Homo sapiens: one gene and its partners. The protein of the gene in region 1 purifies or fractionates together with the protein of each later gene. This does not show direct contact. Each region holds a gene or a part of one and is shown on either strand. Other genes may lie near its edges.

Region 1 (9,348 bases):
ATTTCCATGCCTAACCAGTCAGTATACCAGCTACTCCCTCCAGCCGATCTAATGTTTTAATTGTCCCTTTCTCTAAGTTGTCTCAAACATTTGTAATTCTATTCCAATCCACCTTAATTTAGTCATTTATTTCACAAATATTTCTGGAAACATCTAGCACTTAACAGACACTAAAAGCGGGGGTACTACACAGTCCCTGGGATGGACAGGGCCCTGAGCTGAGGCTTCAGAGTCTGCCTGACTGAATCCTCACCCCAGCCTTGTGAACGTGGGTTCTGTTATTATCCCCAATTTATAGGAAACAGAAGCACAGAGAAGTTGAGTCACTTGCCAGCTACCAGGTCATCCCTTCCACTTATCCGGGTCACAGACAGAGTTATTATGTAAACCAGATCCCAGCTGCCTGTTCTCCCTCCCTGAGTAAGGTGGAGAGAATTCTGAAGTCAGCCCAGCCTGGGTCTGTATCCTGCCCACCACTCACCAGCTCCTCATCTTTGGCAACTCTAAGTCTCAGTTCCCTTATCATAAAAGGGAGATGTAAACAGTCCTGAGTGCAGACAGTGTTCAGGTTAGTGCAAGAGTGTGTGCTGGGTGTGAAGTGCACAGCCAGCACGTCACAAGCACTGGAGACAAATTCAGCTTTGCTTGTTGCGCACACTCACCAGCTGCGTGACTTTAGACCTCAGTTTTCTCATCTGTTATGTGGTGGTAATGATAGACTTTTGTGAGCATTAAACTAGATTAGGGGCTATGGAGAACCTAGATGGGTATGAAGTGGGTATAATAAGCTATCAGTTAATTTTGCTGATAGATAGATTATTGATTGATTGATCGATAGAAGATTCATACCAGTATCTACCTGCTCTGAACACTGACCTTTCTTTTTTTCTTTTTGAGATGGTCTTGTTCTGTCACCCAGACTGGAGTGCAGTGGCATCATCATAGCTCACTGCAGCCTCAGTCTCTTGGGCTTAAGGGATCCTCCTGTCTCAGCCTCCCAAGTAGCTGGGACCACAGGCGTGCATCCTGGATAATTTTTTTTTATTTTTTCTAGAGACGGGGTCTCACTACATTGGCCAGGCTGGTCTCAAATTCCTGGGCTCAAGTGATCCTTCTAACCCAGCCTCCCAAAGCGCTGGGATTACAGGCATGAGTGGCCATGTTCAACTTGAACACTGAGACTTCATTCGCATGTGTAACATAAAACTGAGTATCTAGACAAGCCAGCATCTTTCTTTCAAGTAATCACTAAAGCCAATACTTTTACTTGAAATCATCTCATTTAAAACTCTGAGCAATACGTAAGGATCACCTCAATAACATATGGATCATCGCAATAGGTGAAGGGTCTTCTCTGCCTTGGAGTAACCTGCCCAGCAAAGGGGCAGACCCAGATTTGGGATCTGGCAGCTGGGAGAGTGGGGAAGGTTGAGCCGTGGGGCCCTTGTCATTCCCTCTGCCTGCCAGGAGGGGGCATGACACAGCTCCTAGGCACCCCAGGAGCCACCGGGAACCCCAACTGGAGTGGGTCCTCACTGTTCTCTTTTTCCTCTGGCAGCCTTGGAGCATGGCAAGTCCAGAGCACCCTGGGAGCCCTGGCTGCATGGGACCCATAACCCAGTGCACGGCAAGGACCCAGCAGGAAGCACCAGCCACTGGCCCCGACCTCCCGCACCCAGGACCTGACGGGCACTTAGGTGGGCTTGAGGCTTGAGACTCGGTCTGGGGGAGAGGTCTGAAGACATTCAAAGTACAAATGTGGGTCACTTTGGGGGATGCAGCAAGAGGCCCGGGCAGCTCTTGTAACTTGGGTTATCCCAAAACAGACACTGAGACACAGATCTAGTGCAAGCTGTTTATCCGGGAGACGGTCCTAGGAGTCATGGCAGGGGAGTGGGAATGGAAGGAAAGGGCAAGAGGCCAGGGCAGGACATCAGTGAACAGATAGGCACGGTAGGTGGCTGAAGCTCAACCCCAGCGGGGGTCTTCTGGGAGACCCTGGAACATATCTCTGGGTTGTCCTATCCTAGGGGTGAGGAAGCCGGGCTGTTATCTACCAGTCCTGCCCTGCATAGGAGAAGGGACGCTCCTGGGCCTGCTGCTATGGCCCTAGAAAGCCCTCAGGGAAGCCAGTGGCATGTTCTGGAAAAGTGGGTGCCAAGAGGGCACGGTCCAGCCTGGGGCATGGACAGCATCTGCTGTAGTGCCATCTCCTGGAACAGATCTTTTCTTACAGTCCTTCGAGATGCCCTATTCAATACCTGCTCTGTTCCTGGCCCTATGCAGGGCACTGGAGAAACAGAAACAGGAAGAAATCAAACACTGCACTAGTCCTGAGGTTTGGTAGAGAAACAGATCAGTGAGAAACAGTTACACGTGCCACGAGAAATAAATAAATAAAATGAAAAACCTGTAGGAACAAGGTGGGAAGCTCTTACTCTAATGCCAAGGGGCATTTGCAGTGATGTGGGGGCTGGGTCTTGAAGGGTAGACTGGAAAAGGGCTGGGACCCATGCCCTTTGCAATAAAATGCACAATTATTTGTGCTTCTTAAGAACCTCAGAGTGGCGCAGGGCTCAAGTGGGGTTTAAGAAACACTGTGTTCGTTTTCCAGGCGTGGAAATAGAGGGTTGGATGCAAGGCAGAGCAGTGCACGTCCGAGAAGAGCCCGGCATGTGGGCAGTTAGATGAGAAGGTTAGGAAGGGCCAGCCCGCTGAGGCTGGAACATAACATCCTCCTCACTGCCTCCCCTGCCCACTGATGTGTGCTCAAGGAGTCGTGGCAACAGTCACGAAGTCAGGGCTGCAGGGAGCACAGAAACACACAAGCCACCGTCTCTGCTTGTCCAGAGCAGGGATTTCACCATGGCCAATCTACAGACCAGAAGTGGACGATGCAAAGTGCCCGCACCGCATTCCAAAGCTGTGAAACCACTTGGGGGTGATGGGCTATTTGGGATTGTCGGTGGTAGGGTGGATTCTGCCAGGCTGGGCACAGAGGTCTGTCTGATGCCCCAATTGGGCCTATAAATGGCGGGGTGGGAGAGAGGGATATTCAATACTCTTCAGGAGTTCTGATATGCCATCTCAGATAGACCCAGCCATCTCCCCAAGCCCATGCCTCGGAAGTGCACTGACAGGGTGCAGATCCTTAAGGGTGTTGTCCTTCCAGACACACACAGTGGCCTGAGCTCCAACTCCAGCATGACCACGCGGGAGCTTCAGCAGTACTGGCAGAACCAGAAATGCCGCTGGAAGCACGTCAAACTGCTCTTTGAGATCGCTTCAGCTCGCATCGAGGAGAGAAAAGTCTCTAAGTTTGTGGTAAGCAGAGATTGGGAAATGGTGGAGCCTCTTTCACTCTGCTTCCTTCCTGGCCCTGAATAAGTCTTGTAGAGCCTCAGGTTTCCCAACTATGAAATGGGTCAACACACTAACTCACAGCTTTCTTCTGGAGAAAATGGCCAAAGAGCAAGATTTCAGGCTCAGCACCTGCTAGGGTCTGTGAGGATTCGAACCATATAAGTCATATTTCTTGGTCCCAAGAAGGAAATAGCCCAGTTTAATCCCATCTTATCAGGTGTCAGTCACCTGTGTCCTTTCTTCACCAATTTTGCCATATCACTGTATCTGTTCTAATTATTATTACTTATTTTTTTCTTTAAATTGGATCACTTTTTAAAAACATGAAGCACATTTATTTCAAAGAGAAATACCTTAAATGGAAAACCAATATCACATGGCACAAAGCAAAAGTAACATACTAGAAAAGTCGATACAAGGAAAGTCAATACAAGGAAAGCTATGTGCTGTTATTAAATTCTAGCTGGTTACTGTGGCTTCGGGAAAGCCCTGTGCCTGGGAGCTGCTCCTCTCCCTGTTAGAATGGAATTTTAGCTTGTGTTAAGGGATGTTAAAGACTGCCTAAGAGCCACACTTCATCCTTCTCCTTCACTTACCTGGGACCGGGATAAATAACATAGCTACCACTGAATGCCAATGGCATGCCGGGCACAGCTCCATGTGGTTTCAGTGCATTAACTCATTTAATCCTCACTGGGTGAGGTAGGCACTATGCCTATCCTTGTTTTATGAATGAGAAAAGTGAGACTCGGAGAGGTTAAATTACTCATCTAAAACCACACAGCTAGACCATGGTAGGGCTATAATTACAACCCATGCAATCTGGCTCTGGAGTCAGATGCATGGGTTATAATTGCCCTTAATATATAATTGCCCGTAATCAGGATTCTCTTGAAAGATGATTGAAAAGGATTGATTTTCTTACCATATAACGGCATCACCAGTGTACCTAAATGATGTTATATTGTACGTAAAACTAATTCCCAAGTGTGAAACATTTGGAAAACACAGCATCTCAGTTCAGAAAACAGAGGCCCAGTTTTAGCAAGTAAAGCCAAGAGGGACCCCAGCAGCCTGCAGGGCAGGACCCTCTGCCCTTTCTCCTCCCAGATGTCCCCACCTTGCTGTGTTGTTGTTCCAGGGTTGACTCAGCTGATGCCAATAGCAATTTAAAACAGAATTGGGCCAGGTGCAGTGGCTCATGCCTGTAATCCCAGCACTTTGGGAGGCCCAGGTAGGAGGATCGCTTGAGCCCAGGAGTTGGAGACCAGCCTGGGCAACACAGCCAGACCCCATCTTTTAAAAAAAATCAAAAAATCTGCCAGGTAGTGGGTGTGCCTGTAGTCCCAGCTACTCAGGAGGCTCAGGTGGGCAGGTCAATTGAGCCCATAAGTTCAAGGTTGCAGTGAGGTATGATCGCATCACTGTACTCCAGCCTGGGTAACAGTGCGAGACCCTGTCTCTAAAAATAAATAAATAAATAAATAAATAAATAAATAAACAAACAAACAAACAAACAAACAAACAATTGCATATAAGGATCGCCCGTTTTCAGGGCATGCTTTACACCGGCCTGGTTAACTTTACTCTGGGTGTGCTCCGTCCGCCGCAGCCCCCGCCGGGAGGTGGCCACAGCTCTCTCTGGTTGCGCCCTAGGTGTACCAAATCATCGTCATCCAGACTGGGAGCTTTGACAACAACAAGGCCGTCCTGGAACGGCGCTATTCCGACTTCGCGAAGCTCCAGAAAGCGCTGCTGAAGACGTTCAGGGAGGAGATCGAAGACGTGGAGTTTCCCAGGAAGCACCTGACTGGGAACTTCGCTGAGGAGATGATCTGTGAGCGTCGGCGCGCCCTGCAGGAGTACCTGGGCCTGCTCTACGCCATCCGCTGCGTGCGCCGCTCCCGGGAGTTCCTGGACTTCCTCACGCGGCCGGAGCTGCGCGAGGCTTTCGGCTGCCTGCGGGCCGGCCAGTACCCGCGCGCCCTGGAGCTGCTGCTGCGCGTGCTGCCGCTGCAGGAGAAGCTCACCGCCCACTGCCCTGCGGCCGCCGTCCCGGCCCTGTGCGCCGTGCTGCTGTGCCACCGCGACCTCGACCGCCCCGCCGAGGCCTTCGCGGCCGGAGAGAGGGCCCTGCAGCGCCTGCAGGCCCGGGAGGGCCATCGCTACTATGCGCCTCTGCTGGACGCCATGGTCCGCCTGGCCTACGCGCTGGGCAAGGACTTCGTGACTCTGCAGGAGAGGCTGGAGGAGAGCCAGCTCCGGAGGCCCACGCCCCGAGGCATCACCCTGAAGGAGCTCACTGTGCGAGAATACCTGCACTGAGCCGGCCTGGGACCCCGCAGGGACGCTGGAGATTTGGGGTCACCATGGCTCACAGTGGGCTGTTTGGGGTTCTTTTTTTTTATTTTTCCTTTTCTTTTTTGTTATTTGAGACAGTCTTGCTCTGTCACCCAGACTGAAGTGCAGTGGCTCAATTATGTCTCACTGCAGCCTCAAACTCCTGGGCACAAGCAATCCTCCCACCTCAGCCTCCCAAGTAGCTGGGATTACAGGTGCACACCACCACACCAGGCTAATTTTTAATTTTTTAGTAGAGACAGGGTCTCTCTGTTGCCCAGGCTGGTCTCTAACTTCTGACCTTAAATGATCTTCCTGCCTCAGCTTCCCAAAACACTGGGGTTACAAGTGTGAGCCACCACCCCTGGCCTGGGGTTCATTTTTAATGGGAAAAGCCACTGGGGGCTCTAACTCGCTGGGTGACTTTGGACAAGCCCCTCCTCTGGTCCTCAATTTCTCCATCTGTATTGGACAGAGGTGCTCCTGGGACCCCTTGGAAGCCTCTGCTTGTGTCCCACGTCCTCTTGATGCCAGGGCCACTTCATCTCCAAAACACAAAACCAACTGCCAAAACCGTCCAGAGCAGTGTCCACCCCACCAGTGTCTTTGTGGGAAGCTGGAGAAGAAGTTTACCTCACACATTCTAGACAAAACTTAGTCCATTTCCTTGAAGACAGTTCTCTCCAGCTGCTCCAAGGCTTTTCTCTCTGTTCCTTCCACCTTGGAATTGCTTTAAAATATTTCCATCCATTATCCTAATACTATCTTAGTATTCTAGCCCTTCCCCCTTACCATGTAGACCTGACAAAGCAAAACAAAAGCTCACCTATTGCCCTCAAGAACAGCCTCTACACACACACACACACACACACACACACACACACACACACACACGGTGGGAGTTGTATGCCATCCTTTTGAAGGGTGGGAGGACCCTGGACCAGAAAGCAATAATGGCATAAGATTCTGTGATACCAGGCATTTTTGGCAAGGGAAGTTGCCAACAATTTTTCTGGCTGGGATGGCATAGCACATTGTCTAGGGGTGGATTTTCATTCATAAGGCAGCTGTTCCCTGAATGGCTTCCCTGGGTTATGTAGAAACAGCCTGGGGAGGAGGTGATACAACATACTTAATGGGGCCTCTGGGCAGAAAACAGACTGAATCCTCAACACTGCCCCTTTTGAGGGTCTGTGATCCTGGAACTTCTCTGATGGACTGGGATGCCCTTAACTGAGGTCTGCTGTCTGGAAAGGACACCACAGGCCCAGAATGAAGGGGCATCTGGACCAATGACCTAGATTCAACACAGGGCTTGGAGCTGGTGGTACAGGCTGGTTTTGGCCCAATGTGTGTTGGAGGCTGGAAGCCCCTGAAGACCTAAACTGCCTGGATGAGCTTATTAGGGTGAATTAATGAGTCTGTAATTTGGGAACCTTAATGTGAGACACCACTTAAGGAGAGGAACTTGGCCCAGCAAGTGATCACTCTAGAAGTGGACAGCTATGCACTAGACTGCACCAGAATCTGTTCAACAGCGACACCTTGTGGTAAAAACTGTAGACGCCCCATCAGGCTGGATGGGAAACTAGAAACAGACTGTCTCATCTTTGGACAGATATCCCTCAAATCTCCCAATCTACTCCAGGGAAAAGACACTTCAAGTGAGAGATATTGGACTTCTTGAAAATCTAGGCCTATGGAAAATTAAAGTGTTAAATGGAAAAATTAAAGAGCTATGAGTCTATTTGTAATGATGAAACAGATGATATTGATTTTGTCAGTTATTTCTTCAAATCTAAAATGCTATCAACAATATGCAACAAATGTTTACTAACAAAGAAAAAATACCCAACATGGACAGTTTAATGGGATATTCCAGCACAAAAGCTGGAAAAGCAAAGAGTTAGACCCCCGATATGAGGGTTAACACCAAATAAGCCTGTTGTACAGGAGGGGACATTAAGGAAATTTGCACAAACTAAACTTGGCACTGGGTGGAGTACAGGGAACTTCCTCTGAGAATTTGAACTGCAAGCGGGCACTCGCCCATGTTTTAGGGCTGAATACACACAGCATGGTCCAAAATCCCTCAAGCAGAGAAATCATGTTAAAGTGGTCTCAGGTGGAGGTGTTCCAGGTGCCTCAAGACCTGGAGATCTTTAGGTCTTCCCTGGGGCTGAAGGATGTCAGCATCAAGCCAGGCCTATAAGAAGTGTAGGATCCTGTTGAGTTCAGAGGTGCTGAAATGTGAAAAAAAAAAGTCATCTCAAAATCACAGATAGATGATATGTGTGGGGTGTTGGGGGGGTGGGGCGGGGGGTGCACACAGAGAGAAAATACTTATATGGGAGTAAAGGAGCCTATAGAATCACATGGGGGGTTCCCCATAAGTACCTCTGAAGAGGGGTTGGCTTCCCACACAGTGCACAGGAAATGGATTTATTCAGGCTTCCCAAAAAGGGACTGGCCACATGGGGCAGCTTCAGGACCATCACTTTGCCTTTTCCCGATGACACTCAATGCTGCCCCTCCTCGTGCTTCTGGCAGCCTTGGCCTGAGCATCCACGGGAGTTTCTTCTGGCCATGGACACTGCATCTTCATCCACTACAAGTTGTCTGATGGACTGGGATGGCCTGCCACAGCCAGCTCCTCCTGGCATCTCCCATATGCTGCAGCAGTTAGAGCCCACTCGTTCCTTGGGTTCCTGGAACAAGTCCTTGAATTCCTTAGGCCCCCACCTCCAGCAAGCTTTCCGCAGGGCCCACTGCAGCCCCACCGGGGTACCCCACCTCCCTGTTTGCCTGGGCCCTCTCCCACGCCACCTGTATTAGTCCTTGTTTCTAGGGGACTTTAGAGTGGTGGCAGCTGGGACTGAACATTCTTCTCCTGACCCCTCAAAAGCTGGGTCCACAGGAGAGGTGAGGGGGTACCTGACCTCCATACCCAGGATGGAGCCTTGTTAGGAACACAGAATTTCAGGCCCCACCCTAGACCTGCTTAATCGGAGTCTGCACTTTAACAAGAGCATCCCCCACTGCCGCAGGTGACTCTTACCTGCATACCTCAAAGGTTGAGAAGCCCAGTGTTGAACTGACTTGAAGGCACCTCAATGAAAATCATCCATGGAACTGGGCCATCTGTGGTCCTGGGTTCATCCCCATCCTTCTCTTCTCTCCACCCGGGCCCTCTACCATACAGGTGCCTCATCCCAGGGGACTGCAGATGGGACTACCATGCCAGCCTCACAACCATACCTGCAAAACCACTCTGGGCATTTGGACTGGAGCTTAAAGGGGTTCATTCCAATGAAGCCCTCCCTGCTGCAGCAGCCACTCCCCCCCACTGGCTGTGATGGAGTCCTGGGGTCTCCACTTTGAGCTGGGATTAGGCATCCTCATGAGACCCTGTCCCCTGGGATGCCGGCAGTTCCCTGCCAAGCCCACAATTGAAAACAAGCTCTGCAAGCAGCTCCCTGTGCGGTAAAAGTCAGGGCTCCCCAGGCCTACTGTGTGACCAGGCACTGCCGGGCCATTGATAGCACCGTCACTCCAGCTCTGCTTGGGACATGTTCCTATCCCATTTTTCAGTTGAGGAAAATGTGATCATTTGTAACATTGTAACCTGAGGGGGTTAAGTGACTT
Region 2 (6,654 bases), on another chromosome or scaffold:
TCCCCTCCTCCACTCTTCACCCCATCCCTCACTTTCTACACCCACCACCTCCTCCACCCTTCCTCCCATCCCTCACTTCCTCCACCCATCACCTCCTCCATCCTTCATCCCATCCCTCACTTCCTACACCCATCGCCTCCTCCACCCTTCACCCCATACCTCACTTCCTACACCCATCACCTCCTCCACCCTTCACCCCATACCTCACTTCCTACACCCACCACCTCCTCCACCCTTCATCCCATTCCTCACTTCCTACACCCACCACCTCCTCCACCCTTCATCCCATCCCTCACTTCCTACACCCATCACCTCCTCCACCCTTCATCCCATCCGTCACTGTCTACACCGATCACCTCCTCCACCCTTCATCCCATCCCTCACTTCCTACACCCACCACCTCCTCCACCCTTAATGCCATCTCTCACTTCCTACACCCATCACCTCCTCCACCCTTCATCCCATCCATCACTGTCTACACCCATCACCTCCTCCACCCTTCATCCCATCCCTCACTTCCTCCACGCACCACCTCCTCCACCCTTCATCCCATCCCTCACTTCCTACACCCGTCACCTCCTCCACCCTTCATCCCATTCCTCACTTCCTACACCCACCACCTCCTCCACCCTTCATCCCATCCCTCACTTCCTACACCCGTCACCTCCTCCACCCTTCATCCCATCCCTCACTTCCTACACCCACCACCTCCTCCACCCTTCATCCCATCCCTCACTTCCTACACCCGTCACCTCCTCCACCCTTCATCCCATCCCTCACTTCCTACACCCACCACCTCCTCCACCCTTCATCCCATCCCTCACTTCCTACACCCGTCACCTCCTCCACCCTTCATCCCATTCCTCACTTCCTACACCCACCACCTCCTCCACCCTTCATCCCATTCCTCACTTCCTACACCCACCACCTCCTCCACCCTTCATCCCATCCCTCACTTCCTACACCCATCACCTCCTCCACCCTTCATCCCATCCCTCACTTCCTCCACCCACCACCTCCTCCACCCTTCACCCCATCCCTCACTTCCTACACCCATCACCTCCTCCACCCTTCACACCATCCCTCACTTCCTACACCCACCACTTCCTCCACCCTTCATCCCATCCCTCACTTCCTACACCCACCACCTCCTCCACCCTTCACCCCATCCCTCACTTCCTACACCCGTCACCTCCTCCACCCTTCATCCCATCCCTCACTTCCTACACCCACCACCTTCTCAACCCTTCACCCCATCCCTCACTTCCTCCACCCACCACCTCCTCCACCCTTCATCCCATCCCTCACTTCCTACACCCATCACCTCCTCCACCCTTCATCCCATCCCTCACTTCCTACACCCATCACCTCCTCCACCCTTCATCCCATCCCTCACTTCCTACACCCATCACCTCCTTCACCCTTCACCCCATCCTGCACCTCCCCACCCTTCTTGATCCTTTACAGGCGGTGAGCTGACACCCCACGCCCACCACAGAGACAGGGCGCCATGCTGGTGGGGAATGCAGGATCCACTTTTTTATTGCAGGAAGACTATGTCTAGAGCGAAGGCTACACAGACCCCACGATGGGGGAGTGGGGGCACCCACATGCGGGGGGAGAGGGGGCAGGGGCGGAGTCACAGCAAGCATGGCCTGGCACAGTCCCCAGCACCAGGGATGCCCAGGCAGGATGGGCCAGCAGCCAGGACAGGCTCGGGTCCCCTCCTATTGCAGATGCCCTCTCTCCCCAGGGTCGGGCAGGGCCTGAGGTGGGAGAGGCCTGGAGGTGGGCAGGGCCCCAAGGAGATTGTGCTATCAGGGTGTGTCCCTGAGAAAGGGCCGCAGACCCCTGCCCAGCCTCACTCTCTCCGGCACCTTCAGAACCCAGAAGCTACTGCCAGGACAGGAGAGGAGGCAACATCAGCTGCTGGTGGGCCCTGGGCCAGCCCAAGTTTTGGGGGGACCCAGCTCTGCTCAGACACAATGCCAGCTCTTCTGGGAGCCCGGTCCACGTGCTGGATAGCAACACACACGCACGTGTGCACACTCCCTCTCTCTGAGTGTGTCCAATAAACATTTGTTGAGTAAACACTCACACGAACACAGAGGAAAACAAACATGCTTGTACCAAATCAGACACGAGCAATCTGTTACCTACATAGTCCCACCTGGCCACATGACTACAGAGACACATGTGTGCAATCTCTCTCTCTCTCTCACTGCACAAAAGGGCGTGCGCACACACACACGTTGCTTCCTCACACCCAATAAGACCAAAACCTCCATCTCACCTTCCCTCACTAACTTAGCTGCCATGCTCCGAGCCCCGCTGTGGAGAGACCCACATGGTACAGAACAAAGGGCAGCTTCCAGCCAACAGCCAGCGAGGAACTGAGGCCTTCAGTCTTGCAACAGCAAGGAACTGAATGCTGCAACAACCACATGAGCTTCTAAGAAGCAAATCCTTCCCCGATCAGGCCTTCAGATGAGACCTCTGCCTGGCGAATGCTTTGATTGCAGCCTCCTGAGATCCCAAGTAGAGGACCCAGCCAACCTGCACCCAGGCTCTTGACCCACAGAATCTATGAGATAATAAGCATGTGTTGTTTCTGGTTGCTACATTTGTGGTCATTTGTTACACAGCAGTAGCTGACTGATACAGATTTGGAACCGAAAGTCACATTGCTAGAGTCATGTTGCTATAGAGTGGAACACAGATCGTGTCCCTCAATCAGGACAAACATATTTACAGATAAATGCTCTCAGATAAACCATATCACCCACTCCCCAAAATATAGTCATGCTCATACAGGCACAAAGATTCACACAGACACCTCACACATATCCAGTCTTGCTGACAACCACACACAGGTATCTACAACTACCCACCTCTCTGTATACCCTACACCACTATTACACACACAGACTGCCACAAAAACATATCATCCCAGACAGACACACACAGGTATACACGCAGATGCACTTAGATACAAGTCACCCATCCGCGCACCCCAGGTTGCACAAATACACCATTCCATAGCCACTTCCGTGTATGTTGGACACAACCCTGTGGGGTCACACGAGTGTGGTGTCACTCAGACTCTCTCAAAAAACACCCAGAACCTCATGGCTGCAGGTACACTCGACTCCAGGACGCCACCTTCCCGGGCAGGCCCTGCTCTCTGGGGCACAGGTGGTGGGGAGGAAGTGGGTGGGGCAGACCTCTGTCCGGGGCGCCCTCGGATCCTGCTGGTGCTGGCTCCCATCGGCTGTCCCCCCACGGGGGTGTAATTGATGTATCTCTGGCCGGGGCCCCGGGTACCCCCTCCTGAGCACCCCAGGTCCCCACCCGCCATGCGTTGCTAACGTCTCTGTCTTGGTGGAAGAGGCGGGTCCCGGGTGGGCGGTGTCCGGGAAGCCCCTCCACGCCCATGGTGCCTCTCCAGCGGGGCAGTTGTGCTGTGGATGTGGCTGGTCCCGGGGGTGGGATTCGGGGCTGGCAGGGGCACTGCTGCAGGCCCTGTGGTTATTGCCTGGTGGCCTGAGGCCCATCCCACGGGCCCCACACCCCACTGTGAAGACAGAGGAGAGAGGTGCGTCTGGAACCGGAGGAGTGGGCACAGATCAGAGGTCACGACGGGCCGGGTGGGCTTGGGTGTATGTTAACACCAAATAGGAGAAAAAAGAAAAAAATATCTGAGGCCGATGTGCATTTTCAACTCCCCCCTCCCCCAGAAGGTCACAGTGATCAAATGTGAGGGACAGGACGCGCAGGTCTGGCTGGGGACACCCCAGGGAAAGAGATGGAAACGGGGAAACGCAGCCTCCTCTGGTCCTGGTGGGAACAAGCAGCTCCTCTTGCCAGCTCCCCATCCTGTTTTCCCATCTGCAGGACAAGGGGGCCACCTCCGGCTCTTGGTTTTGGAGGGTACAGACAGAACAGGAGGGTGGAGAGAGAGCAGGGGAGGAAGAAAAGCCCCAGCCCTGCCTCGGGGTGGGCAGGGGCAGCGGAGGGGGGGGCGGTGGCCTCGGTTTCCCCAGCCGAGGTGTCGGAGGAAGGATGAGAGAAGAGGAGGAGGCCGAGGAGGGTGTCGGTGTTGGGGGAGGCAGCGGGGGTCAGTGGGGGTGGGCGGCGGGCAGGCGGGCGTTCCGGGCTCACATGAGGGTGCATTTGCCCTTGACGCGGTCTGTCCTCTTCTGCTTCCCGGAGCGCTTGCCGTCGATGTTGAGGCTCATGTTCCGGCGCGTCTCCAGCGTCAGCAGCTCCTGGAAGAGCTCCTTGACGTTGTAGTTCATCTTGGCCGAGGTCTCCATGAAAGCGCACTTCCACTCCTGGGCCACCGCCTGCGCCTCGCGCGTGTCCACCTCCCGCTGCGTCTCATCGCACTTGTTGCCCACGAGCATCACGGGGATGTCCTCCACGCTGCCCTTGATCTGCACGATGAGCTTGTAGATGGGCCCCAGCTCCTCCAGCGACTGCTTGCTGGTGACGGAGAACACCAGGATGAAGGCGTGGCCCTTGGAGATGGACAGGCGCTGCATGGCCGGGAACTGGTGGCTGCCGGTGGTGTCTGTGATCTGCAGCGTGCACACGCTCTTGTCGCAGCTGATCACCTGCCGGTAGGTGTCCTCGATGGTGGGGATGTAGGTGTCGCGGAACGTGCCCTTCACGAAGCGCAGCACCAGCGAGCTCTTGCCCACGCCGCCCGCCCCGAACACCACCACGCGGTAATCGTTACTCTGTTCCGGCATCTTCCCCGCGGCGGGTGGGCGGCCGGGGCCGGGAGGGCTGGTGCCAGCTGCAAGAACCCCAGACCGAGCCTGTGCAGAGAGGAGGGTCACACGTCAAAGGCCACCCAGGCTTGAGGGGACAGCCCCACGCCCCGGGGAGGGAGGAGGACATGGCGGCTTCTCAGAGGAGGTGGCTGCCGTGCCTCCTGCCTCCTGAAAAGGCCCATTTGCTTGTGGCTGACTTTGCAGTTCTGTCCCACAGGCGGGCGCACAGCCAACACCCTTTGCTTACTTCTCCCTAACAAAATCTGGGGCCTGAGCTTCCCCGGGGGACGCTGAGCTAGGAGAGGCGTGGGAGACGCCGGGATGCCCACGAAACTCCTTCCCCGGGTGTGGGTGTCCCTTCCAGGCTGTGCCAGCTTCCCCCTCTCTTCCCAGTGTGGCAGGGGCCCCTGGAAGCTAGCAGGCCTGGCTTCCACCTCTCGCTCCACACCTGCCTGGCTCTGAGACCTTGCCGAGCCATCATGCCACCCTGAGCCTGTTTGGTGGCTCAAACGGTGCCCGTCTCCAACAACCATGGGTCCCCTGCTCTTCCGCCAACCCAGAGATGGCCAATCCTCATGGAAGCCGCACATGGTCGGGTGTTTAAGATGCATATGTCAGGGCCGCAGCCCTAGGTGTGATGAATCGGTCGGCCAGGGCAACGGCCCTGGGAACTCGTATTTTATTTTATTCTTCTTATTTATTTATTTATTTTTAGACAGAGTTTCGCTCTTGCTGCCCAGGCTGGAGTGCAATGGCACAATCTTGGCTCGCCGCAACCTCCACCTCCCGGGTTCAAGCTATTCTCTTGCCTCAGCCTCCCAAGTAGCTAGGATTACAGGCATGCACCACAAAGCCCGGCTAATTTTATATTTTTAGTAGAGGCAGGGTTTCTCCATGTTGGTCAGGCAGGTCTTGAACTCCTGACCTCAGGTGATCCACCCACCTCGGCCTCCCAAAGTGCTGGGGTTACAGGCGTGAGCCACTGCACCTGGCCTTCTTATTTTTTTTAAAACCAAGTCTTGCTCTGTTGCCCAGGTTGGAGTTCAGTGGTGCAATCTCGGCTCACTGCAACCTCTGCCTCCTCGGTTCAAGCAATTCTCCTGCCTCAGCCTCCAGAGTAGCTGGGATTACAGGCATGCACCACCACACCCGGCTAATTTTTGTATTTTCAGTAGAGACGGGGTTTCGCCATGTTGGCCAGGCTGGTCTTGAACTCCTGACCTCAGGTGCTCCTCTCGCCTCGGGCTCCCAAAGTGCTGGGATTCCAGGTGTGAGACACCGCATCCAGCTGGAACTTGTATTACAGGGCTGCTCTCCTCACCTGCCATAAATGGGATCCTGAGGCTGGGAATCTGAGAACCACAATTTGCAAATCAGGGCACTGATTCCCAATAGCCGCCCCAGGGAGGAAGGGTCTTGCAGCCCAGGTGGGACACAAAAATACAAAATCCAGAAGCTGAACGGGAAAATCGCCACTCCCTAAACTCTAAAATCAAACTATGGCCTGGTGTGCCCTAGCCCCTCCCGTTCAGGTCTGAAGGATCCTTAGAATAGCACTTCCTGGGAGGGGCACCTCTTAGCCCCTCTCTTCCTTCTTGGGCTCAGAGAGGTCCAGCAGCCTGAGGAGGTCACACAGCACAGCAGATCCTGAAATGATGGAGGTGGGGGAAGAACGCTGGGGGGAGGGCGGGTGGCTTATCTCCAGAATTGATGTCCTCCCCTCCCCTTCCTCCTTCCAGGCTCTGGGGCAGCGGTGGGGGGTGGGGGAGGGGTGTTCCCCAGCAAGGTGGTCTACAGTGGGAGAGGAGGAGGAACCAGTTTCTACCTGCTGCACTGGGGGTGGGGGTGTGTTTATGGGGAGGGTCCAGAGGTTCCC
Region 3 (10,194 bases), on another chromosome or scaffold:
TAGCTGAATGTGCTTCTTGAAGAGGGAGAGCGCTTTATGATGAAGACAGAATGTGAGCTGGCCGGTCAAGGAAGGGGAGCTCCTCAGCAGTGGCAAGGGGAGTGAAGAGTCTGGGAGGGAGGAATATCTCAGGCAAGGTAGCAGCAGCAGCAGTGCAGAAAGTAAAGGGGTCAGAAGAGGGAGAGACTGGAGTGTATTCAAGTGTTGGTGCCCACCTGGGTTGGCTGAGCCATTGGGTTCCTGAAGGAGTTGAGCGATGAGGCTGAGAAGGAGACTCCAAGAATTAAAGACCCATCGGCAGTTTCTGGGTTCCAAGAAGAGGAAGCAATGGAAAAAGGAAACCTTGCACTGAAGCCTCAGATGAGGGTCAACAGGACGAGATGAGCCAAAAGTGACTCGAAGCTTTTGGGTCCCTGTGATTAGCGGAATGATCCAACATGGGTCAGGAGGGAGGGGCGGCAGAGAATGGAAGTTGACTTCCGATTTAGACAAACTGCGTTTAGCATGAAGGTGAAAAACCAAACAGGAAGTATCCAGACCTATAAGTTAAGGAGGCAGATCCGGAAATGAGATCTGGGAGTCTCCGGCATAAAGGGTGGCACCGAAGTCAGAATGCGGAGAGGGTCTTCATGGGAGTGTGTAGGGAGACCGGAAAGACACTGAGGCCTGAGCCTCAGAGAGGGAAGAAGGGGCCAGTGGAGGAAGAAGGAGCTGTCAGAAAGGCAGGAGGCCACGAGGGGAGAGAGCACACGAAGAAGAGGCAGCCGACAGCGGAAAACGTATCTGAGGGTAAGGACAGCTGAAGGAGAAATAACAAGGGCAATTCACAGAGAAGAAAGGAACAGAAGTAGATTTCAGATTAAGAAGGAGGTAAGCCCGGAGTAGTGGCTCATGCCTGTAATCCGGCACTTTGGGAGGCCGAGGCAGGTGGATCACCTGAGCTCAGGAGTTCGAGACCAGCCTGGACAACATGGTGAAACCCCGTCTCTACCAAAAATACAAAAATTAGCCAGGTGTGGTGGTGCACACCTGTAATCACAGCTACTCCAGAGGCTGAGGTACGAGAATCATTTGCATATGGGAGGCAGAGGTTGCAGTGAGATGAGATTGCACCACTGCACTCCAGGCTGGGCAACAAGCGAGACTCTGTCTAAAAAAAAAAAGCAGGAGTCTTTAGCAGATTTTGAGGACAGCTTTATTGCTCTTTCTTGAAAATATCCTACTTCTGATCAGGGAGGCTCACTTTGCTAAGTGCTGATGGTCCAGCATGCCTCGAGGGCATGTGAAGCCATCTCCATGGTGAACTGCAAAACAGCTCATTCTAATAAGAAGGCACTTGAGAGCTGGCACACAACATACACCCTATCTCCCCAAGATAAAATGCTTAAGTATTTATGAGCTTGCAATACAGGTGTTAGATAATGTCTCCTTACCCTGTGTTAGACATCACTCAGGCCCAGAGGCAAATTCCATTTCTTGAATTATTCTACAGTAAACCAGGCTGTCTTTTGAGACAGGGTCTCTCTCTCTCACCCAGGCTGGAGTGCAGTGACACAATTACAGCTCACTGCAGCCTCGACCTCCTGGACTCAAGAGATCCTCCCACCTCAGCCTCCTGAGTGGCTGGGACCACAGGTGCATGCAACTACGCCCAGCTAATTTTTGTATTTTTTTGTTGAGACGAGGTCTCACTATGTTGCTCAGGCTGGTCTCGAACTCCTGGGCTCAAGCGATCCACCTGCCTTGGCCTTCCAAAGTGCTGGGATTATAGGCTTGAACCACCACGCTCAGCCAAACCAGGCTGTCTTAACATTTCACAAATTCAAAGTCAAGTCTAGATTAGGGATTCCTTCTGCTTCAGTTTCCTCAGAGTGAATAGTAATTACAGCCACCCCTCCTTTTTTCTTTAGAAACAGGGTCTCACTGTGTCATCCAGTGCCCAGGCTGGAATGCAGTGGCATGATCATAGCTCATGTAATTGAATTCCTGGGCTCAAGTGATCCCCCTGCCTAGGCCTCCACTTAGGATTAGAGGTGTGAGCCCTCATGCCTGGCCTATAGCCAACTTTACTGACGGCCTTCTCTGAGCCAGGCTCTTTACAGGTATCTCATTTACATGTATAAAGTGAATATTATTATACCCATTTTACAGATGAGAAACCTAGGCTTAGAAAGATTGTGTGACTTAGCCACAGCTGCTAAAGCTTCACAGAGGCAAAGGCAGTTGCATGAGATCGAGTGTTTGGATTCTATAAGCCAGTAAAATTTCCAACATTTATTTTGAGTTCCATAAAGGATTGCCTGCTGGGTGTTTAAGTTATTTACCAACATCATGTAAGAAAGGAAACATGAAGATTTTAAAGAGGATGACAGCCTGGGCCCTGTCTCTACAAAAAATACAGAAAGTAGCTGGGCATCATGGTGCACACCTGTAGTCCCAGCTACTTGGGAGGCTGAGGTGGGAGGATTGGTTGAGTCAGGGAGGTCAAGGCTGCTGTGAGCCATGATAGTACCACTGCACTCCAGCTTGGGCAACAGATAAGAGACCCTGCCTCAAAATAAATAAATAAATAAATTTAAAACATAAAATAGAATAAAATAAAAATTTAAAAATGCAGGATGAACTTAATCTCAAAAAGGACATTGTTTTGCATTTAATAACTTTAACGAGAGATCTATTTTTATAAAACATTTCAGGTACAAAAAGAGTATAGATAATGTAATGGACACCAGCTTGCCATCCACCCAATTTAGGAAGTAAAACATTACAATGGGAATTAGAGACCTCGTGGTCCCCTCCGTGACCCCATTTCCTTCCCTCCCTACTGGTAACCATTTTCCTAACATTGCCGTTCCTCACTTCCCAGCATACTTTCACACATTCACTACATACCCATACAACTCTGCTTTTCTAGCGCGGCCAATCTCATCAGTGGACTACGAGGGGCAGTGAGGACCCAGTGGGGAACAGGCTCCCTGAAAACCCTGCACAGAACCCACTGTATTTGGGAAACACCGCTCTAGACGGGGGCAGGGGAGGGAAGGCCTGACATTCTAACACCCTCAGTAAGCAAAAAAGACCTTCAATATTTAGGTAGGAGTCAGAGTTCCTGCCCTTACTTTATTACATCTCTTAAGACGAACTGACATTTGCATCAGTCCTTTCTAAGCGTGTTTGCGGGTAATTTCACGAGAGCGCCCTCTCATGTGACGCAGTTAGCACGCGCTTGGTTTCTCAACCCGACTGTGACACCTTCATTACACAGACGGGTCCAAGAGACCCAGAGAGGTCTGGAACTTCTCCAAGTCACACAGCAAGTTGTGGAAGCGGGATCACCACTCAAAACTCCCAGCCCCGGGCTTCCCGTTCTCCCTCAGCGCCAACCCCGTCGCGTTCAGGGTACAGAGGAAGCCAGCGAGCGCTGTGCTCTAGGGTTTCCACTGGCGGGAACCCAACAAAATCATTTTGCTGCTATTGCCTATTATGCATTCTACCATTTCCAGCAAAATGTGAGTCGTAAAAGTAAAACCAGGATATTCTAAACTCCAGCAAAGAAAAAACCCAGGAGAGTGGAAAGTTTCTGGATACTTATACAATTGCTCCAAGGCATGAAAAGCGAGTGTCTCCCCCAGGCGCGCCTCCCACTTTACAGAAGCAATGGGTTCGAAGTCGGGAAGCTGCCCGGGGCCCGCAGAGCTGCAGTCGGCGGGGCGGGAGGGACCCGGGCCGCAAGCCGCGCGTACCATGGCGTCCGCGCTTACCATGGCGTCCGCGCTTACCATGGCGTCCGCGCTTACCATGGCGTCCGCGCTTACCATGGCGTCCGCGCTTACCATGGCGTCCGCGCTTACCATGGCGTCCGCGCTTACCATGGCGTCCGCGCTTACCATGGCGTCCGCGCCGTGGCCCCCAAGCGACGTGGGGAAGCGCACGTCCCGGACCGAGAGCCGGGAGATCCTGCCGCGCACCATGGCCCCTGCGCCCCGTGGCCGCGGCCCCCGTGCGGTCAGGACTGGTCGGGATCCCGAGCGCGCGGCGGGAGGGCGGGAGGGCGGGAGCGCGGCAGCGCCGCGAGGCGGGGCACCGTCAGGGCATAGAGGGCGCTCATTGGCCGCGCGGCCGCACCCCGTGAACTTGGCCCCATGGGAGCTGCAGTCCCAGCTCCGGGCTCCCGGGGGCGCACTCCGCCTTCCGCCGTTCCCTTCTCAGCCTAGACGGAGCTGACCCCGAGAGGGTTCGCTCAGGGTCGCCGGGGAACCTGGGCAGGCAGGAGGCCTCGCGCCCGGTCGGCGCCTCCGCGGGACCCTGCTCTGCTCGGATGGAAGACTCGTGAAGGGACCTGCCCGGGAGCCGCGCCCTAGAGGGAGAAGTCGGGTCTGAGCGAGTGCATTCGCTCAGCGGCAGATTCCGGCCAGTGGCTCAGCTCCCAAGCCGAGGCCGCTGGTTGTCGCCAGCGTACCCAGGAGAGCGGTGCCCTAGAAAATGCTAGGTCTCTTTCAGTGCCCACAGCCTCAGTTTGCCACCTGATAAATTAAGAGGCAGGTCATCATTGATTACACCCGTACTGATGCAGATGAGGTCCCCGTACCGTGCCTCAGCCTGTAATCCCAGCACTTCGGGAGGCCGAGGCGGGCGGATCACCTGAGGTCAGGCGTTTGAAATCAGCCTGGCCAATACGGCGAAATCCCGCCTCTACTAAAAACAAAAATTAGCAGGGCGTGGTGGTGCGCGCCCGTAGTCCCGGCTACTCGGGAGGCTGAGGCAGAACTGCCTGAACCCGGGAGGTGGAGCTTGCAGTGAACTGAGATCGCGCCACTGCACTGCAGCCCGGGCGACAGAGCAAGACTCCGACTCAAAAAAAAAAAAAAAAAAAAAAAGATGCTGGGCGGCTCACGCCTGTAATCCCAGCAGTTTGGGAGGCCAAGGCGGGCAGATGGCGAGTCAGGAGATCGAGACCATCCTGGCTAACACGGTGAAACCCCGTCTCTACTAAAAATACAAAAAATTAGCCGGGCGTGGTGGCGGGCGCCTGCAGTCCCAGCTACTCGGGAGGCTGAGGCAGGAGAATCGCTTCAACCCAGGAGGCGGAGGTTGCAGTGAGCCGAGATCGCACCACTGCACTCCAGCCTGGGCGACAGAGTGAGACTGTGTCTCAAAAATAAATAAATAAAAAGAAATAAAAAGAAAATCCAAAGTAAGCAGAAGAGAAGAAATAATAAAAATTAAAGCAGAAACCTGTGAAATTGAAAACAGGAAAGCAACAAAGAAAAATCAATGAAAACAAAAGCTGGTTCTTTGAAAACATTGATAAAATCAATAAGCCTCTAACCAGGCAAGAAAAGAGAACGCAAATAACTAATATCAAAAGTGAAATAAGGAACATTACTACAGATCCGACGGACATTAAAATGATAATAAAGGAATACTATGAATTCTATGTCCACAAATTTGATAACCTGGATGAAATAAACCAATTCCTTGAAAGACACAATCTGCCAAAACTCACACGAGAAGAAATGGACAATCTGAATAGGCCTATATCTATTAAATAACTTGAATAAATAATAGCCTTCCAAAAACAAAAAGCACCAGGTCCATGGTTTCACTGGTGAATTTTACACCAAACATTTAAGGAAGAAATTACAACAATTCTCTATAATCTATTTCAGAAGATAGAAACAGCCACAAACTGACTTTATGGTGAATGATTGATGCTTTCTCCTTAAGATTTGGAACAAGGAAAGGATGTCTGCTTCCACCACTTCTATTCAACATAGTACTGCAGGTTCTAGTTAGGGTAATATAATAAGAAAAGAAATAAAAGGCAGATTGAAAAGGAAGTAAACCTGTTTATTCTTGGATGACATGATTATTCATCTTTGTTGAAAACTGTCTTCATTGGACTTAACGAAAAAAGCTACTGGAACTAATATTGAGCTTAGCAAGTTTGTAGGATACAAGGTCAATTTAAAATCTATAGTTGATGTGCTAGTAATAAAAAATTGGAAACAAATTAGAAAACAGTATCTCTTAAAACAATTGCATTGAAGATATAAAACAGGACAAGTTTAACAAAAATATGCAAGATTTGCACACTGAACTATAAAACATTGCTGAGAAAAAAAGATCTAAAGAAATGTAGAAATGTAGAGAAATTCATATTCTTGGATTGGAAGACTCAATATTGTTAAAATAGCAGTTCTTCCCAAATCGAACTACAAATTCAATGCAATCTAATCTAAATCACTAGCAGGATTTTTTTGAAGAAATTGACAAGTTGATTCTAAAATTTATATGGAAATTTGAATAGCCAAAATAATCCTAAAAAAGAACAAGGCTGAAGAACTTAAACTACTTGGTTTTAAGACTTGCTATACACTAATCGAGTCAATGTGAAATTGACATAAAGACAGACAAGTAGATCAATGGAACAGAAGAGGTCTTGAAATAGTAAAAATACAAAAAATTAGCCAGGCGTGGTAGCACGCGCCTGTAGTCCCAGCTACTCGGGAGGCTGAGGCAGGAGAATCATTTGAACCCGGGAGGCGGAGGTTGCGGTGAGCTGAGATCGCGCCACTGCCCTCCAGGCTGGGCGACAAAGCGAGACTCCGTCTACAAAATAAAAACAACAAAAAAAAACAGGGGCCAAGAAAATTCAACGAGTAAGCTAATCTTTCCAACAACTGGTGCTCGAACAATTGAATATCCATAAGAACAAACAGAACAATCCTGGATCATTACCTTATATCATACACAAAAATCATCTCGAAGTGGAATATAGATCTAAATTTTAAGAGCTAGAATTACAAAACTTCTAAAGAAAACACAGGAGAAAATCTTTTTGTACTTGGATAAAGCAAACTTTCTTAGGACACTAAAAGCATGAATCATAAAAGAAAAACATTGCCAATTAAATTATCAACATTAAAAATGTTTTCTCTTTTATGAAAACCATTAAAGAAATGAAAATGCAAGCTGCAGATTGGAAGAAAAATATTTGCAAAACATATCTGTTAAAAGGACTTGTATGCAGAATACTGAAAAAATTACAACTCAGTAAGATGGCAACTTGATATAAAAAATGGGCAAAAGACTTTTTAATAGACATTCCACCTAAGCAGACATATGAATTTGAAATAAGCTTATGAAAAGACTCAACATTATTAGTCATTAGGGAAATGCACACTAAAACCACAATGATGTACTACTAACACGCACCAGGATGGCTGCAATTAAAGTGACTGGCAATACCAAGTATTGGCAAGGATGTGAAGCAGCTGGAACTCTCATACATTGCTGGAGGGGTATGAAAGGGTACAGCTTCTTTGGAAAATAGGTTATCAGTTTCTTAGAAAGTTAAGCATTCATGTATCATACAACTCAGTAATCCTACTCATAGGTAATTATCCAAGAGAATTTAAAACCTATGTTTAAAATAAAAACTTGTATTTGAATGTTCATAGCAGCTTTATTTGTGATAGCCTAAAACTAGTAACAACCTAAACATCCATCAATTGGTAAAGGACAAAACCAAGATGTAGTACACATCCACACAATGGAATATTACTGAGCCATAAAAAGATCTCAAAAGCATTATGCTAAACGAAAGACATCAGACACAGTGACTACATATGATTCCATTTATATAAAGCCCTAGAAATGTACAATTATAGTGACAGAAAACACTCAGTGGTTGACAGAGGTCAGGGGTGAATGGAAGAGATTGACTGTAAAAGGGCATAATGGAATTTTCTGAAATGATGGAAATGTTCTATGATTCTGGTTTCATGGTGGTTTCATGGCTGTCTACATTTGTCAACAACTCATCTAGTGGTACACTTAAAATGGTGAGCTTTGTTGTATGTAAATTATACCTCAATAAAACAAAAAATGTTGCTTTGGGGTGCTGCCTCCTCTTTGAATTTGATTCTAAGTTTGAATTTTCTTTGAAATTGCACTTAAAACTCTGCGAAAATGTTCTCTTGTATTTCTTTTAGATTGGGTTTCTTCTGGTTCCACGAATTTTTCAAAATTTCTGCTGAAGTGAAGCCACCCTTTTCTAACTTTCTAGCAATGGTAAAGATTACAAAAACCAACCAAACCAAGTTTGCCATCTAGTTCCATGGTATATCCTCTCAATGTTTTAGGAGACTAAGACTTTCCATGAAAATAGTGCAATTATGAGTGAATAAATGGAATTTGATAAACTTTAAGGGCCACACCACTTTAATTCAGTTATTAGAATCACTGTCAACCTTTTTGGCCAACTGCGAAGTTTTTATTTCTCTCATCCCTATTGTCACAGGCTAGTGACAATTTTTTACTTGGATTTTCAAAGTCCTCCAACTTACTCGTTAACTTGACCTTTAAGATAGAAGTGAAGCTGGATTGAACCCCTACGCCATGTCCCTGTGAAATCCAGTGTCTCTCCAAGTATCTCTGGAAGTACTTGGTGAACTTTTCTCCTACTTACCTGATTTATTTCCTGAATTTATTTCCCCACTGCGTTTAAACTAGGTTATGAAATCCATCCCTATCCTTTTTTGTACCTTGTCATTGTACCTCTGGCCGTGACCCCAATCCCTTTTCTTTCCTAAAGGTCACTGACTCACTGTTATGTGTAGCTGATTTGCAGGAAGGTTTGGGGTAGCAAGGACTCTGCAAGCAACTTAAAATTGAATACCGCCATCTGCTTCTTAAAGGTCCCAGGGACCATTCCTGCTACTGGATAAATTTCACATATTATCTATTTAGCTTTTATTGTTTTACTAAGTCTTATTTCTAATTTTTTTTTTTTTTTTTGAGACAGGGTCTCATTCTGTCACCCAGATTGGAGTGCAGTGGTGCAATCACAGTTCACTGCAGTTTCTACCTCCTGGACTCAAACAGTTATCCCACCTCAGCCTCCTTAGTAGTTGGGACCACAGGTACGCACCACCATGCCCAGCTAATTTTTGTACAGATGGGGTTTCGTCTTGCTGCCCAGGCTTATCTTGAACTCCTGGGCTCAAGCGATCCTCCAGACCAGGCTCCCAAAGTGTTGGGATTACAGGCATGAGCCACTGCACCCAGCCTCCTTCCTATACATTTTAAAATTCAACTCATAAATTATTATTGAATTGCAGTAAAACAGCTAATTGAACATTCTGTCCAACAGTTTTGCAACAAATGGTTTTCTAATATTGGAAAAATAGACATTGAAAAACTCTTTTAAAAAAGATTCGTTTTGGGGCGGTTGTGGTGGCTCACGCCTGTAATCCCAGCATTTTGGGAGGCTGAGGTGGACGAATCACCTGAGGTTAGTAGTTCGAGAGCAGCCTGGCCAACATGGCAAAACCCTCTCAATTAAAAATACAAAAATTAGCCGGGCATGGTGGCACACGCCTGTAATTCAAGCTACTTGGGAGATTGAGGCACAAGAATTGCTATAACCTGGGAGGCAGAGGTTGTAGTGAGCCAAGATCACACTGCTGCACTCCAGCCTGGGCGACAGAACGAAACTCTGGGGAAAAAAAAAATTGGAGTTTTCAATATTTCCAAGATTTGGTATGCTCTCTCCACAGTTAATAGTCTTGTAACTTTACATTTAATACAATGTTGCATATATTGCTGAAGTTTTGTATACACAGCACTGAAAATGTTTTGTATAAACTGTCACTTTTATGTGATAATTTGAGTTTCGTATTTTCTACTGATACAGCTGTTGGTATAATGAGTATCAGTCAGGGTCTCAACTGGAAGCAGATGGCATGCTCAAATTAAGATAAATCAAGAGGCCGTGCAGTGGCTCACACTTGGTAATTCCAGCACTTTGAGAAGCCAAGGTGGAAAGATTGCCTGAGCCTAGGAGTTTGAGACCTGCATAGGCAGCATAGCAAGACCTCATCTCTAGCAAAAATACAAAATTTGCTGGGCATGGTGGCCTGTGCTGTACTCCTAGCTACTTGGGAAGCCGAGGTGGGAGGATCCCTTGAGCCCGTGAGTTCGAGACTGCAGTGAGCTATGATCGTGCCACTGCACCCCAACCTGGGCGACAGCGTGAGAGAGATCCTGTCTGTAAAAAAAAAAAAAAAAAAAAAAAAAGCAAATCAAGGATATTTATTTACAAAGAGGTGGGCAGGTTAGGAACCACAAGGATTAATGCAGTATTAGTAGCAGCAAAACTGTCATCACCCCTGAGGCAGAAAACATATG

Evidence for each region.
Region 2: the proteins of SNX20 (region 1) and DIRAS1 purify together in Homo sapiens (affinity purification with mass spectrometry; 2 studies listed by BioGRID and IntAct, with this or other methods). This does not show direct contact.
Region 3: the proteins of SNX20 (region 1) and ENOSF1 purify together in Homo sapiens (affinity purification with mass spectrometry; 2 studies listed by BioGRID and IntAct, with this or other methods). This does not show direct contact.

What each region holds. Positions count from the first base shown.
Region 1 is NC_000016.10:50,669,746-50,679,093, reverse strand, and holds the end of SNX20 (sorting nexin-20), read left to right. Parts: intron 1-1,558; 5' UTR 1,559-1,567; coding exon 1,568-1,697; intron 1,698-3,172; coding exon 3,173-3,324; intron 3,325-5,019; coding exon 5,020-5,688; 3' UTR 5,689-7,465; downstream 7,466-9,348.
Region 2 is NC_000019.10:2,713,053-2,719,706, forward strand, and holds the end of DIRAS1 (GTP-binding protein Di-Ras1), read right to left. Parts: intron 6,426-6,654; exon of another isoform or gene 5,260-6,425; coding exon of another isoform or gene 5,227-5,259; intron 4,824-5,226; coding exon of another isoform or gene 4,755-4,823; coding exon 4,158-4,754; 3' UTR 1,515-4,157; downstream 1-1,514. UniProt on the Homo sapiens protein: Displays low GTPase activity and exists predominantly in the GTP-bound form.
Region 3 is NC_000018.10:708,617-718,810, forward strand, and holds the start of ENOSF1 (mitochondrial enolase superfamily member 1), read right to left. Parts: upstream 4,015-10,194; 5' UTR 3,972-4,014; coding exon 3,888-3,971; coding exon of another isoform or gene 3,744-3,887; intron 1-3,743. UniProt on the Homo sapiens protein: Plays a role in the catabolism of L-fucose, a sugar that is part of the carbohydrates that are attached to cellular glycoproteins.